Linked DNA regions of Homo sapiens: region 1 is linked to region 2. The links come from fine-mapping of genetic effects on gene expression. Tissue or cell type: whole blood. Region 2 holds a variant in brackets; the other region holds the start of a gene. All regions are shown on one strand. Distances are between the middles of the regions.

Region 1 (8,087 bases), 76 kb before region 2:
AGCCTGCCAACATGGTGAAACCCCATCTCTACCAAAAATACAAAAATTAGCTGGGCATGGTGGCACAGCCTGTGATCCCAGCTATGCGGAAGGCTGAGGTGGGAGGATTGCTTGAACCCGGGAGGGGCAGGTTGCAGTGAGAGGAGATTGCACCACTGCATTCCAGCCTGGGTGACCAGAGTAAAACTGTCTCAAAAATCAAAAACAAAACAAAAAAAAAGTGTAAAAAAAATGTGTCACTAGTTCTTGCTCAAATTACAGTAAAGTAAGATCACATAGAAGCAAAAGGAGACAAAATTAAGTAGTAGTCCCATCTGACACAGTCAAGGGGCTGATATGGACTATAGTTAGTACTCATACATGGAAAAGTTCAGGTGTTTGCAGTGTTAACTTTTTAAACATTACAGCCACTTCTAGAATCAACAGGACTTAATGAAGATTGAAATAAATGAGTCAATAATAACAAGGATACTCTCTATCCTAAAATGAAAATACACCTTAGTAAGGTGGTTCTCAACTAGGGGTAATTTTGCCCCCTAAGAAACATTTGGCCATGTCTGAACTCATTTTTGATTGTCAGGACTGGGGAGGTGCTGCTGATATCTTGGGATGTGGCTAAACATGTAACAGCCCATCTTCACTCCAAAATGTCAACAGTCCCAAGGTTGACAAACCCCATCTTAGAAGAAGGTTGGGAGCCACTGAATCTATGTTTTGAGATAACTTGATCATAAAAATCCTAAACCAACCGGGCTTGTTTATTTGTTTAGAAATATTGATACCAGCCGGGCGCAATGGCTCACACTTGTAATTCTAGCACTTTGGGAGGCCGAGGTGGGAGGATCACAAGGACAGGGGTTCCAGACCAGCCTGGCCAACACAATGAAACCCCGTCTCTACTAAAAATACAAAAATTAGCTGGGCGTGGTGGCAGGTGCTTGTAATCCCAGCTATTTGGGAGGGTGAGGCAGGAGAATCGCTTGAACCCAGGAGGCAGAGGTTGCAATAAGCCAAGATCGCGCCACTGCACTCCAGCCTGGGCAACAGAGCTAGACTCCATCTCAAAAAAAAAAAAAAATTGATACCTTGCCAACTAGTACGGGATGTATTAAAATGTATGGTTTTGAAAGTATTATTTAAAGGAAAGTTAACAACTGACATTCCAATTTATCTAAATATTTGAAATTTTGTAAAAGCAAAAAAAGGCAACAAAGTAATACTTAAAAAAAAAACATTAGACATACACAGATACTCCATGACTCTCACAAACAATACTGAGTAAAAGAAACCAGACACAAAAAAATACATTTTGCACAACTCCATTTATATAAAGCTCAAGAACAGGCAAAAACTGATCTTTTACATTAGAAATCAGAAAAGTGGTTCCTTTAGAGAAAAAGGAAAAACAGAGATGGAAGAGAACATAGGAGGACTTCCAGGATGTTAATAATTTTGGGGTTTTTGGGGGGTTTTTTGTTTGTTTGTTTGTTTGTTTGTTTTTAGATAGAGTCTCACTCTGTCACCCAGGCTGGAGTGCAGTGGCGCAATCTCGGCTTACTGCAACCTGCGCCTCCCAGGTTCAAGCAATTCTCTTGCCTCAGCCTCCCAAGTAGCTGGGATTACAAATGTGCGCCACCACATCTGGCTTTTTTTTTTTTTTTCTTTTTTTTGTACTTTTAGTAGAGACAGGGTTTCAGCATGTTGGCCAGGCTGGTCTTGAACTTCTGGCCTCAAGTGATCCCCCCACCTCAGCCTCCAAAAGTGCTAGGATTACAGGTGTGAGCCACTGCGCCCAGCCAAAATTTTGTATCTCTTAATCTGGGTAGTACTTACATAACTGTTCCCTTGGTGACAATTCATCCACTGAATACTGATAATCTGTGTACTTTACTATATACAGATAAAACTTCAACAAAATTTTATTGATATTATTTATACACTAAAAATCTGAGCATTTTGACCCCAAAAGATAAATTGATGTCAACTGCAAAAGTAAAAGTGCTTTGTTATATAGGCTGCCTTCCAAGAATTCAAGGTTGACACCCCCAGAAAGATGTAAATAGCATACTCGGCACTCATATAGCATTCAGCTGTACACTTAAGCCACTATATATCCCTCGGCACCAATCCAAAAATTTCACAAACACTAACAAATGAGGCTGAAATTATTCCATCAACAGTTTGTTTGCATTAGTTTTCCCAGTGTTAAACTGTGAACTGTTATCAGAGAATAGGCTCCATGAAGTAAATGATGCTTTCTCTTTCCTAATCCCACACACTCTCGAAGCTCCCCCAAACTAAAACCTTCTTGGCCCCTGAACTCCTTAGGACTTCTCCAGGGTGTTTCTAACGGTGCTCCCTATTCCCTCTCCCAGTAACCACTCTCACACTCTACCTCCCACACATACAAAAACTCACATTAATGCTCACTCCAGAGACGTGTCTCCCTCCCTAGCCAGACTTCTACCCTCTCCCTGTATCTCACAACACAATCCAAACCCCCACTACCCTCAAACTCCCACTATTCAGAAATTCCCTGCCAACAGCATCACAAAACCAGGGCACATGGTATCTTTTCAATCCTCTTCGGTAGTAGTCACACAAAAAGCCGTTGCTACTGTAAGCTCTTCTGCCTGCCTATTCAAAGGCAACCACAGTGGTTATTATCTCCAACTCTTCTCTTCCCTTTAGCCCCCGCCTCCTTTACTGCACTCAAATCCATTTCACTTTTCAACCACTCTCTCCCCTACAACCTCTCCCTTCCTCTTTCTGAATCCTTCCTAAGTCCCACTGGTAGCTGATGGAAAGTTGGAGGGGTGTATGAAAGAACTCACTCTGTCCTGTGTAAAGGTGGTGGAGGAAGGCTGCCCAAGTCTCAAGCACGTGCATGGCTGCAGAGTCAGACACTGGATTCTGCAACCCAGCCCCACCACTTACTAACTGGAAGGCTCTGGACAAGCCTCAGTTTCCTCAACTGCCAAATGGGGGTAATAAAAACAGCTATCTCACAGAGTTGTGAAAATTCAGTGAACTAATGGCCACTGAGCCCTTTGCACAAATCCAACACGGTAAGTTCTCAGTAAATGACAGTTTCTCTAGATCCTCTTCTTGGCAGGAGGAATAAAGGGAGAGGGTGAAAGGTATTCTTTAGGTCTCTTTAATGCTAAGATTCCTGCAAAATCTCCCCTTGGGGGACAGAAGGAAGGCAACCGATATAAGGAGGGAAGTACTCTACAGATATGTGAGTGAAACAAAGAGTTTTGTCACATCTCCAAAGTCAGTGTTTCCCCCTTCTTATCTTCCTACAACGCAGAGCCAAGAAGTCCTCAAAGCCCTTCCTAAAGGATGGAGGAACACATGAATATATACATCAAATCCTCCTTCCACAGAGACTCACTGAAGGGAATGAAGAAGGAAAAAGTCCTCCTAATTATTAAGATGCGTTCCTTGGGACTCGGAGAATTAGGAAGGAAACCCCCAAGTCTTGAATACATTTCTCTAAAGAGGCCGAATACTTAATAATCAGGGGAGATTAAAGCAAATGGTAGACACCCTAAAGTCTCCTCCAGGGCTCTTGCACGAAGAGTACAAACTGGTTTCTCCGTAAGCGGGGATGGCCAGGTGGGGAAAGAAAGGAAAAGTGCTTTCACTATGGCCCGTGGGACACAGGGGGTTCCCCGGGTCCCTTCCTGGGCGGAACGAGGGAGAGGGTCTGCGCGGGGCAATCCCCGGCTCCCTGCGTTGGGGGAGGCGGCCTCGGGCCGGGGCCCCAGGGACTTGAGCTGGCTGGCTGCTTGTCCCTTAACAAGCCCATCTCCTGTAACGGGATTCTCCTAGGACTCCGGGATCTCCCGGAGGTTCGGCCATCACTGGACCCCTCCCCGCACAAACCTCCTGACAGTCTTCCTCAGTCCCGCGAGCCCTCCGGGTCCCTGCTCTGGGTGTCCCGGCTCGCGGGGTCAGCCCGGAGCCAGCAAGCTCTCCACGCGGGCCTGCCCGGGTCCCTCCCGAGTGCTGCGAGCCGCGCGGGCTTACCTGCTGAGACGGCAGCTCCACATGCAGGGCCCGCGCGGCAGAACCGGGAGGCAGAGCAGCGGCCGGGCCCGGGGGTGGCTGGGGGACGGGGCCCCCGACCGACGCGGAGGCGCTCATCTCGATCCAGGGGCCGCCAAGCGGCGGGGCGGGCACTCTTCCGGCATCCGCCGCCGCCCCCTTGCCACCACCTACCAAGCCCCTGCAGCCTAGAAACCCGCCACCCGAGAGGCACTACTGCTCAGCCCAGACAGTAGCCGCCGCCGCTGCCGCCGCTGCCGCCGTTGCCGCCGCTGGCTAAGGAAGAGCCATATTACCGCAGTGCAACCCCTCCACCCCGCTGAGACCCGGAGCGCTCATTGGCTTAGCCCTCAAGGGGGCGGGACCCAACGGCAGAAAAGGGGCGTGCTATTGGGTAGAAGGTCTGTCCATCGCTGGCATTACTGGACTTGGGGGCGGAGGGACTCAAGGATGGCCTCAATTGCGTCTGTCAAGCCGGGGTGAAACCTGGGGCGTTGCTTCTTTTTTTCCCAGTCTAATTGGTTCTTTTACTACCAACGGGCAGAGTCTCCTGGTGGAGGCGGAAGGGCCATTGCAAGAGGTCGCTGTCAATTGTCAGTAAAGGGAAAGAGGGGTGGGGTCTTGATTAGGTAGAGCGCGCTTCTGGGCTCCGGTGTCACGTGCAGGAGGCGGGAGAGTCACCTGATTAGGGAGAACCGGTCTTCTGAGCCACTTCCGCCCTCACTGGTTGCCGTGGTAACAGGCCTCCGGTGGAGGGCGGGGACCCTCGGAAGCCAGCTGGGTGGCGATCGCTTGTCTGCCTTGGCAGGCCCCTTGTGCAGTCTTTTCCCGGCGTGAGCGTGCAGGGATTGAAAAGGAATGCTTTATGGTTCAGCAGAGAGCCACCACGCAGGATGCACTGGGACCTGAGAACCGTCGGGCAGTCCCACGAGCTCTTTCATGACCAGCTCCAACCGACAAGTACACGCCCCTTCGCACTCCACTAGCTAGTAAGCTGAGCTACAAGGTGTGCCAGGCACCCAGGACGCCGATTCACCGCTTCAGGTGGGCTGTTTGTGCTGTGTCCCCAGAAAGCCTTTGCTACTTATCCATCAGTCTTAGCTGGGGCAGGAGTCCCTTCTTCCAAAAGGCTTCTCTGAGCCTCTCTGGGACCTTGAGTTAGGAATTTTGACCCTACCGTGGGTCTGGATTATTCTATTAATTTTTTTTAACAGTGCCTCATTCTTTCGCCCGGGCTGGAGTGCAGTGGCAAAATCACGGCTCATTGCAGCCTCGACCTCCTGGGCTCAAGTGATCCTCCCACCTCACCCTCCTAAGTAGCTGGGAATACAGGCACATGCCACCAGGCCCAGCTAATTTTAAAATTTTTTTGTAAAGATGGGGTTCTGGCCATATTTCCCAGACTAGTCTCAAACTCCCAGGCTCAAGCGATCCTCCAGTCTCGGGCTCCCAAAGTGTTGGGATTACAGGCATGAGCCACCAGGCCTGGCCACATTGTCTTTTAACACATGTAAGCAGCCACCCTCCTTCCCACACACACACAAAATACTGTGAATTCTTCAAGCAAAAGGACTTTGTCTGATTCATCTCTGGATCCCCAGTGCCTGACAGAGAATCAGGAAATTTTTTTTTTTTTTTTTTGCAGTGAAGGCCCAGCTCAAATGCCACCTCTTCCATGAAGACTTCCGTGATCCACAATGATAGCATCTCCAGCAATTGCTTCTATAATGAATAGCATGAGTCATTCTGCAGGATGTTGATCTTCCTTTTTTTACTCCTAGACTGAATTTTTCCACCACCTGGATGAACATAGCAGAAAGAACATAGTGTTTTAGAGTCAGACACAATAGGAATCAGGCACTTTGGAATCTTGGCTCTACCACCTTTGAGCTATGTATCCCAAGGCAAGTCACTTCCCCTCTCTCAGCTTTAAAATAGTAATAGGATTGCTGTAGGGATTAAAGTAAATCAACATATGTAAAGTGCCCACACAGGACCTGGCATATAGTAGTTGCATTTTAAATTTTTTAAACAAAATGTAAGCATACTATCTTTCCAGGGTGTTCAGAAGCCTGAAAAACACCTTGGATCTTTTCTCAGAGCTGGATCACAAAGATGTCACACTGTCTCCTGTTCTGACACACTGAGTGGTTCCTCATGGCTGGAGCCTGGGGCGTGTGGTCAGGTGTTTGTTGAGAAAGGAGTCGCTTGATCAGGTGTTTGTTGAGAAAGGAGTCACTGGGAAATCCCAAATATTATCTGATTGAACTCATGTGGTGCCAAGATCTGGGGGAATTTCACAGAAAACACATTTCTGTTTCTAAGCTGTATTAGTTTTCTGAGGCTGCCATAACACATTATCACAATTCTTGCTTGAGCCCAAGAATTTGGGACCAGCCTGGGCAACATGGCAAAACCTTGTCTCTACAAAAATACAAAAATTAGCCCAGCATGTCGTTTTCACCTATAGTCCCAGCTACTGAGGAGGCTGAGGTGGGAGGATTACCTGAGCCTGGGGAGGTTGAGGCTGCAGTGAGTCAAGATCATGCCACTGTACTCCAGCTTGGGCAACAGACTGAGACCCCATATCAAAAACAAACGAAGAGTGATCATCCAGTTACTCACTGCTGGGTCTGAGGGAAGCCCAAAGGCAGTGGGAGCCAGAGAAAATAGTTGAGAGTCAGATTTCACAGTGGAGGTGACATTGAAACAGGGTATTGAAGGGCCAATAAGAGTTCACCAAGTCAGGAGAGAGGGAGGAAAGGACATTCCAGCAGAGAGCAGGATCTATTCTTTCCACAAGCCTTTACTGAGGTTCACCTTTGCACAGGCTAGCTACTGGGTTCTGGAAATGCAGAGCTCAAGTAAACAACCCTTCTCCCACTTTTCCCAAATGCCGAAAACATTAGGAGAACTAGGACTCTCATCCCTAGGGGCATTGGGAAGAACTCAAAAGCCTGCTGCTTGCAAAGTATTCAAGATGATGTAAAGCATTTAACACACTGTCTGGGAGATAGTACATTTTTAATAAATACTAGCTGTCATTATTTTCATATGTCCTATTTCATTCTAAAAACTTTTCTTTCTTGTTTTTGAGACAGAGTCTCTCTCTGTGACTCAGGCTGGAGTGCAGTGGTGCGATCTCAGCTCACTGCTACCTCTGCCTCCCAGGTTCAAGTGATTCTCCTGCCTCAGCCTCCCAAGTAGCTGGGACTACAGGCATGCACCACCACACCCAGCTAAGTTTTTTTGTATTTTTAGTAGAGACAGGATTTCACCATGTTGGTCAGGGTGGTCTTGAACTCCTGACCTCAAATGATCCACCCACCTCAGCCTCCCAAAGTGCTGGGATTACAGGCATGAGCCACCGCGCCCGGCCCTAAAAACTCTTTTATTATTGGGATCCTATTTCATAATATGGCTGATTGTTTCAACATAAAAATATTTTAAATCACAGAATTAAATTATTATAATATTTACATAGTGCTATATATCCCCCAGAGAAACATATATCCAAGTTTAGAGAACATAGATTATAAGGTGGCCAAATGCAATGTATATGCAATGATAGAAGGGGTCCAAGGTCAAGTGGTAAGAGTGACCAACTCTTCAGGAGCTGGTGGGCAAGGTCAGAGCAGGCTTCACCAAAGTTATAAAGGATGATTGGGAGTTTAGTAGATGAACAATAGGTGTTTAGATCTGTTTGGCTCGGGAATAGCTAGTGTTTTAACAGCTAATTAGTACCATGTTGGGTATTTAAATCAAACATTCAGTTTCCAGGGCCAAAAAGCTAAGCCTACCCCAATCCATTTGCCTCCACTTCCTCCTCCCACCTCATGGGCCTGATGCATTGGGTAAACAAGAGCAAGATAGGGCAGATGGGTCTTTCAGTGTCTCAAACTGTATTGAGTTAAATCTATCCCCTTCCTTTCAACAGAGCCCTCTTTCTTCCATTCACTTACCTGTCTAGTCAAACACCCATCAGACCTTTGCCAGGTGTCCAGCCTGGGCACTACGTTTCAGAAAATGATGCA
Region 2 (8,103 bases):
AGCGAAACTCCATCTAAAAAAAAAAAAAAAAACACCACTGAAAAACAAAAGTGTGATCAATGCTAGGCTGGAAGGAAGCAGGGAATTGCGGAAGCCAAGAGGAGGCACCTCACAGCCTGGAGGGAGGTTGGATCAGGGATGGCTTTTTGGTGGAGTTAATGTCTAAAATGACTTAAAAGACTAAGGAGGAATTGAATTTGAGTAGTGAACAGCATCTTAGGCAGAGGGAACAGCTTGTGTAAAATGCTGGTCCTGGGGGAAGCAAGGTGCCCTAGAGAACTGGAAGTTCAATATGGCTGGAGGGTAGAGAGTGGCTGGGAAGGAAGACAGAAACCAGACTGTGCGGGCTGTATGCCAGCCAAGGAGCTGGACAGATAGACCACTGGGAAGTTTGAATCAGGTGAATGGTATGGTCAGACTTACATTAGAAAGATCCTTCTGGCTGCAAAGTGGAGGGTGGATAGCTTAAGATAGATTTGAGGTGGAAGATAAGACAACTCATTAATTGAGGGCTGACAGAGGCTTGCAGGCAGAAAGGCAAAGTCCAGGATATTATGCAGGTATTCATATAACAAGCGATGAAATGTGTTTCTACAAGATATTTGTTGTTGTTGTTGTTGTTGTTTTTAGAGATGGAATCTCACTCTGTTGCCCAGGCTGGAGTGCAGTGGTGCGATCTCGGCTCACTGCAACCTCCACCTCCTGGGTTCCAGCAATTCTCCTGCCTCAGTGTCCCAAGTAGATGGGACTACAGGCACCCACCGCCACGCCCAGCTAATTTTTTTTTAAATTTTAGTAGAGGCAGGATTTCACCGTGTTGCCCAGGCTGGTCTTTAACTCCTGAGCTCAGGCAATCTGCCCACCTAGGCCTCCCAAAGTGCTAGAATTACAGGCATGAGCCACCATGCCCGGCCTGTTTTTGTTTTTGTTTTTTTAAAGAGATGGGGTCTCATGAAGTTGCCCAGGCTGGAGTGCAGTGGCTATTCACAGGTGCGACCCCACTACCAATCAGCACAGGAGTTTTAACCTGCTCCATTTCTGACCTGGGCTGGTTTACCCCTCCTTAGGCAACCTGGTGGTCCCTTGCTCCCAGGAAGTCACCATAATGATGCTGAACTGAGTGTGAACACACAATTGGTATAGCACACTACAGCCCAGAGCTCCTGGGCTCAAGCGATCCTCCTGCCTCAGTCTCCAGAATAGCTGGGACTAAGGTGCATGACATCACACCTGGCTACAAAATTTTAACTGTAAACCCAAAGTAAATAATTGAGTATAATTTTTTGTAACATAGGTCTTGTAATAAGAATAATGAAGTTCTTTTTTGGAAGATAACATTTTAGTTCACTGGGGCTCAAAGTTCGTGTTTCCTATCATTAAATTGATTTCAAATGTTCATCTGTAAAAACCGTTCTTAGCCCACAGGTCATTCAAACAGAGGCTATAGCTTGCTCACCCTTAGTCTAGACTAATGGGGCCTTGGTAGAAGCGAGTAAGAAACAGGAGGCTCTTCCCTCCCCTCTTTACCGTCCCACAAGCCACAGTGCCTAAATCTTTGCCATTACTACCATTACTAAGCATTGCTGCTTCCACTGGGCTCTAGTTACTAGGAGGGACCTAGATCCTTTAGTCAAAAGAAAGACGCCAGGAATATAAACATCCCATAATTATGACCTCTCAGGGCAAGAGGGATCTCAGTAGTCCCTCTCCAGCCCTTTTCCAGGGCAGAATTAACATATATGTTTTGTAGAATCACTATATACTCCAGATACAGAAAGTGACTTACCCGAGGACATGCTGCAAGTTGCTGACAGGACTGGGACTTGAACTCAGGTCTTAGGATCCCTAACCCCACATTTCTTTATTTATACTACCATGAGGACATGGCCAATGTGGATGGGAGGAACACATGGGGAAGAGAGTAGTGTCAGGTCTCATTTGCCCAAGACAAGGGGCTCTTCAGGCTCCTGCCTTCCCCTTCTACCAGTCCAGTGGCAGATCAGCCCTCCTAATTTATTTCACATTTGCATATATCACTTCCAGATGAGGAACCTGAGTCTCAGAGAGAGTGAAGAACTTGCCTAGCATCTGTGGTAGGCTGAAAAGTGGCCCCCCAAAAGATATCTACATCCTAGTCTCTACAACCTGTGGATGTTAGCTTACATGGCAAAAAAGGTTGAGGGAGCTCTGCAGATGTGATTATGCTGAGGATCTTGAGATGGGAGCTTACCCTGGATGATATGGACAGGCTCTGAATGCCATTACATGTTCATAAGAGGGAAGCAGAGAGAGATTCTACGAGACACAGAGGGCAGAAGATGATGTGATGGTGGAAGCAGAGAGAAAGATTTGAAGATGCTGCTACCTGTGGAGATGGAGGAAGGGCCCATGAGCCAAGGAAAGTAGCTCTAGAAGCTGGACAAGTTAAGGAAACAGATTCCCCCCTAGAGCCTCTGGAGGGAAGTGGCCCTGCTGGCACCTTATCAAACTGACACCATTGCCACTGATTTCAGACTTCTTGCCTTCAGAACTGTAAGAGGATACATTTCTGTTGTTTTAAATGACTAAGTTTATGGTAATTTGCTATAACAGCTGCAGAAACCTAACATGACATCTCACAGCAATTGTTCTCAATGTAAATAAAATTTTAATTTTAGAATAGTTTTAGATTTACAGAAAAGATGCACAGATAGTAAAGAGAATTCCTATACACACTTCACCTTAAATGTTCAGAACTATTACACATTTGTCACAACTAAAAAGGCAAGATTGGCACATTACTATCAAACTCCTTATTTTATTCCAATTTTACTGGTTTTTCCTAGTGACTTCTATCTGTTAGAGGATCCCACCCAGGATACCATATTTCATTTAGATATCATGTCTTCTTAGCCTCCTCTGGTCTGTGACAGTTTCTCAGATTTTCCTTGTATTTGATGATGTTTAGTTTTGAGAAGTACAGGTCAGGTGTTCTGTGGGCTGTTCCTCAATATGGATTTATCTGATGTTTTTCTCCTGATTAAACTGGGGTTATGGCGTTTGGGGAGAAAGGCCACAGGAGTGATGTGCCATTCTCATCATAATACATCAAGGGTACTTACTATCAACATGACTTATCACTGGTGATTTTAACCTTGATCACCTGGCAGAGGTAGTGTTTTCTAGGTGCTTTCACTATAAAGTTACTCCCTGTCCCTCCCTCCACACCCAGCTCTTTCTCAGTGCTACCCTTGGAAGCAAGTCTCTAAGCACAACCCAGTTCAACTGGGAGAGGGCTGAGCTTCATCTCAGGGGGAATATCTACAGAAGTTATTTGGGATTCTTCTCTTAGGGAGATTTGTCTCTTCTCTCCCATTTATTTATTATTCAATCATTTATATCAGTATGTACTCATGGATATTTATTTTACACTTTGGATTATAATCCCAGTACTATGTTGTTTATTTTATTGTTTGAATTGTTGCAGCTGTGGACATTGGGAGCTTGTTCTGTTTGGCTCCTGTGTCCTTTTGAGATATCCTCATCATTTTGTTTTTTTAAGCACTTCTTTACTTTCTGGCACTACAAGATTTTTCAGGCTCATCTTGCATTTTCCCTACTCCAGCCCTAGAATCAGGCATTTCTTTAAGTGTCTCAGGAATTCTTTTTATATTTATTTTTATTTTTTACTTATTTTATTTTATTTTTGAGATGGAGTTTTACTCTTGTCTCCCAGGCTGGAGTGCAGTGGTGCAATCTTGGCTCTCTACAACTTTCGCCTCCTGGATTCAAGCAATTCTCCCACCTCAGCTTCCTGAGTAGCTAGGATTACAGGTGCCTGCCACCACGCCTGACTAATTTTTGTATTTTTAGTAGAGAAAGGGTTTCACCATGTTAGCCAGGCTGGTCTTGAACTCCTGACCTTATGATTCTCCCACCTCAGCCTCCCAAGTGCTGGGATTACAGGCATGAGCCACCGTGTCT[G/T]GCCAGGAATTCTTTTTTTAGAGAAAGGTATTAGAAACCAAGATCTGAGCTCTCGGTGTGCTAGTTGCTACTGGGTGCCACTGTTTCTAGTCCCTCTCAGAAGACAGAGCTAGGAGACATATATTTCCCATGTATACATACCTATTTATAATTGCATCTATCCAGCTGTGTCTATATTAAACTAAATATGAGTTCATATGATGTCTCCCTCTAATTCCTTACCACATGGATCATTCTAGTCATCCTCCTTCTCCAACAGTGAGAAAAGTGGCCCCTGTCATCTATTTACTTATGTGTTCAATTGCAACACATGTATGGCAGTTTCAGACTTGTTACCCTGCACCCCCATGATAAATTCATCTTTACCAAGTACGGTGCAGTGTTTATGGACATTGTATTTTTACATCAGTCTTGCAGTTTCCAGTCAAAATATTCTTTCCCAAAGTTACTTAGGTCAGCCCTTTGTTCTCTCACTCCCTTCAGTGAAGTTTTCTCATACATTTATAAGACAATTGAGATTCTTTCATCATCACAGTCTGCATTCTACCCTGGGATACCTTAACTTTTTGGGCGATTCTAAAAGTTTAATTTCTGTACATTAAAGTTTACCTTGTGGGTTTTTTTTTGGGGGGTGGGGGATGGAGTTTCACTCTTGTCACCCAGGCTGGAGTGCAGTGGCATGATCTTGGCTCACCGCAACCTCCACTTCCTGGGTTCAAGCGACGTTCCTGCCTCAGCCTCCCGAGTAGCTAGGATTATAGGCGCCTGCCACCTAGCCTGGCTAATTTTTGTATTTTTAGTAGAGACGGGGTTTCACCATGTTGGCCAGGCTGGTCTCGAACTCCTGACCTCAGGTGATCCACCCACCTCGGCCTCCCAAAGTGGTAGGATTACAGACATGAGCCACCGCTCCTGGCCTACCTTGTGGTTTTTAACAAATGCATAGTATCAAGTAGACAGCACTATAATACCATAGGAATTAGTTCTACTGCCCTAGAAAGCTCCCAGTGCTTCCTCAGCCATAGGCTCCCTACAGCTGATATGCTTTTTTGTCCCTATATGTTATCCTTTTCCAGAATGTCATAGGAGTGAAATCATACAGTATGTAGCCTTTTTGGTCTGGCTTCTTTGGCTTAGCAAAATGCACTTAAGATTCATCCATGCTATTGTGTGAATTTACAGCTCAGTTATCTGTATTTCTGAATAGGATTCCATTGTATGGATTGAACCACAGGTTTTTAAAACATCCATTCACCTATTGAAGGACATCTTGGTTGCTTCCAGTTTTTGGTGATTATGAATAAAGTGGCCATAAACATTCATGTACAGGTTTTCATATAGACTAGTTTTCCAATCAGTAGAGTAAATACCTAAGAGCACAGTTGCTCAGTTGTGTAGTAAGTCTATGTTTAACTTTATGAGAATCTGCCAAACTGTCTTCTAAAATGGCTGTGCCATTTTGAATAAATAAGAGTTATTTTTAATTTTACAGATTAAATCCAACCATTCTGATCCTTTCTTTTGTTTCCCAAGCTGGTAGTCAGGTCACACTTTATTAGACAAAAATACAGCCTTTGCAGTCAGATCTGAATTCAAATCCTCGCTCCACCACTTAAAAACAGTGTGACTGCAGACAAATTTTTTAACCTCTCCGAGCCTCGTACTGAGATTTACCCCTTTAAATACGCATGATGTCACAGATTGGGTTCTCCAGGAAGTGGATTCTGAGATGGTGTGTAGCCTACAGGATGTTTCTTAGAGAACCTTTGGAGTCAATACCACAAGAAGGAAGGGAACGCAGCAAATTTGGATGGAGGGAGAAGTCAAACTGAAATGTCCCATCAGAGTTGTATTGATCTGGGCTGACGTGGCCCGGCCTTTCTACCCTGGCTGGCTCAGTCATGGGCTGTATGCCCTTGCAGAGGCAGCTCTCTGCAGTGGAGGTGATCTCAGAAGGGGCAGACTACACTTCCTGCAGCTGGGAATGGAGTTCTTCCCCGAAAATGCGCCTGGGGACACATCCTCGTATCCACTGCCCAAGGCAGAGTGGAAAGAGCACTGGGTGGGAACTGGGATGCCAGTTCTGCATCTGCCACTTACCAGCTATGTGACTTCAGGCAAGCCCTGCCCTTCTAGGAGCCTTCTCAGCTTATCTGGGTGAAAGTGGCTAAGATGACATCCCTAACCAATTAGTGTATAGCACTTTGCAATTCACCGGTTAGTTTTGTGTTTCTTAACTCGCAACAACCTTACAATGCCAGCATTTAGTCACAACAAAGAGTTCCAGGGCAGTGCTGTGTTACTCCAATGTGGTCTGGAGACCAATGCACGTCCATGAACAGCTTGTTACTGGTTCTTGACAAAATAATTACAGAAATGGAGCGGAACTGTTCAGAGACTTCAGAGCAATATGGCACAGTAATTTCATGTCTGTTGAAACTAATAATAAAATGTTATACTATGTCTTAGTTTTCTTTTCTCATTTTTCTAGTAACTTATATTGTGTCTTATAAAATGGATAGGTCCATGAAGGATTGGGAAAAAAAGCAAAAACCAAAAATCTGGTCGTTTACCACAGACATTTCAAGAAGCATTGACCTAGGGCATCCCCAAATGCAGGCTTTTGACAATTTTACTTTTTTTTTTAGAGGAGGGGCTCTTTTGGCTGGGCACAGTGGCTCACACCCGTAATCCCAGCACTTTGGGAGGCTGAGGCGGGTGGATCAACTGAGGTCGGGAGTTCAAGACCAGCCTGACCAACATGGAGAAACCCCGTCTCTACTAAAAATTCAAAATTAGCCGGGTGTGGTGGCGCATGCCTGTAATCCCAGCTACTCAAGAGGCTGAGGCAGGAGAATCGCTTGAACCCGGGAGGCGGAGGTTGCGGTGAGCCAATGTCGTGCCATTGCACTCCAGCCTGGGCAACAAAAGTTAAACTCTGTCTCAAAAAAAAAAAAAAAAAAGAGGAGGGGCTCTTAAATCATTGACATGTTATTGATAGGGACAGAGTTTTGTGGCTGTTTTTTGTTCTTTAAGGTCCCCTTTAAAAGGGGCTGACGCTGGGCACGGTGGCTCAAGCCTGTAATCCCAGCACTTTGGGAGGCCGAGGCAGGCAGATCACGAGATCAGAAGTTCGAGACCAGCCTGGCCAACATGGTGAAACCCGTCTCTACTAAAAATACAAAAAAATTAGCCGGGCGTGGTGGCATGTGCCTGAAATCTCAGCTACTTGGGAGGCTGAGGCAAGAGAATTGCTTGAACCCGGGAGGCAGAAGTTGCAGTGAGCCGAGATTGTGCCACTGCACTCCGGCCTGGGCAACAGAGCAAGACTCTGTCTCAAAAAAAAAAGCTAAAAGGGGCTGCCAGAAACGAGCTGCCTGTCATAATTTTCTCCTCACCTTATCACTAAAGATGTGAACAGATGTACACCAGTTCAACTGTTGAAAAGGGAAACAGGTTGGTTTTCCAGCAGGGGTTGAAGGGACTCTAGAGTCTTAGAAATGCCCTAACCTCATTTGTGATAGACACAAACTCTCGTAAGTCTTTCAAAAACCATTTCCTGGAATTTATAAAGGGGGAGAGGGAGGAAGAACTGGCATTTATTGAACACCCATTTGTGGGAAGACCATTTACAAGTGAAGAAACTGAGACTCAGCAACTGGACCTGACTTGCACAGGGTCACGCAGCCAGGCTGGCTCTCCGGCCTCTGCCATTTCCATTGTGCCATTCGGCTGGGTCTGAGGCCAGAACCCAGCAGAATGTGAGGAGCATGTGATAGCTGTCTGGGCAGGCAGTCCACGTCTTGGGGCCAGGATTCCAGAAAGTCCTTTAGCCTTTCTGACAAATGAACCTCATCTATTATAAAGAGGTCACTGTGGGTGTGTTTGACATAATACATGTAGAGCATCCCATCCAGATCCTAGCACATAGTAGGTCCTCAGTAAATGGCTCAGGGTGCTGACTCTGCCCTTCTGTGAGGTCATTAAGACAAATGCCCTGTTCAACCTAAGGCATTTTTTGCCCTTGTGGCCTTGCCCTTGACCTACACCAGCTCAAGGACTTTCCAGGGCTCCTCCCTACCTTTGGGAGAAATTCCTGACTCCTTGACTGGACATTTGGCTTCCACCATTCAGTAGACA

Evidence for each region. PIP is the estimated chance that this variant, and not a neighbour inherited with it, causes the effect.
Region 1: UVRAG starts here. The variant in region 2 is fine-mapped to the expression of UVRAG in whole blood (INTERVAL, PIP 0.91).

What each region holds. Positions count from the first base shown.
Region 1 is chr11:75,811,473-75,819,559 of GRCh38, reverse strand. UVRAG (UV radiation resistance associated) reads right to left here and starts at 4,350. Exons shown (of 15, transcript NM_003369.4): 1 at 4,036-4,350. The coding sequence starts at 4,152. It overlaps UVRAG-DT (UVRAG divergent transcript), which reads left to right and starts at 4,763. Exons shown (of 2, transcript NR_144531.1): 1 at 4,763-5,097; 2 at 5,699-6,046. RefSeq lists a silencer at 4,027-4,226 and enhancers at 4,522-4,816, 4,687-5,116, 5,040-6,239.
Region 2 is chr11:75,735,261-75,743,363 of GRCh38, reverse strand. It overlaps the pseudogene RN7SL786P. Among named protein-coding and RNA genes, the nearest start is that of MOGAT2, 21 kb to the right of the region's middle. The variant G/T (reference allele first, on the strand shown) is at 3,964.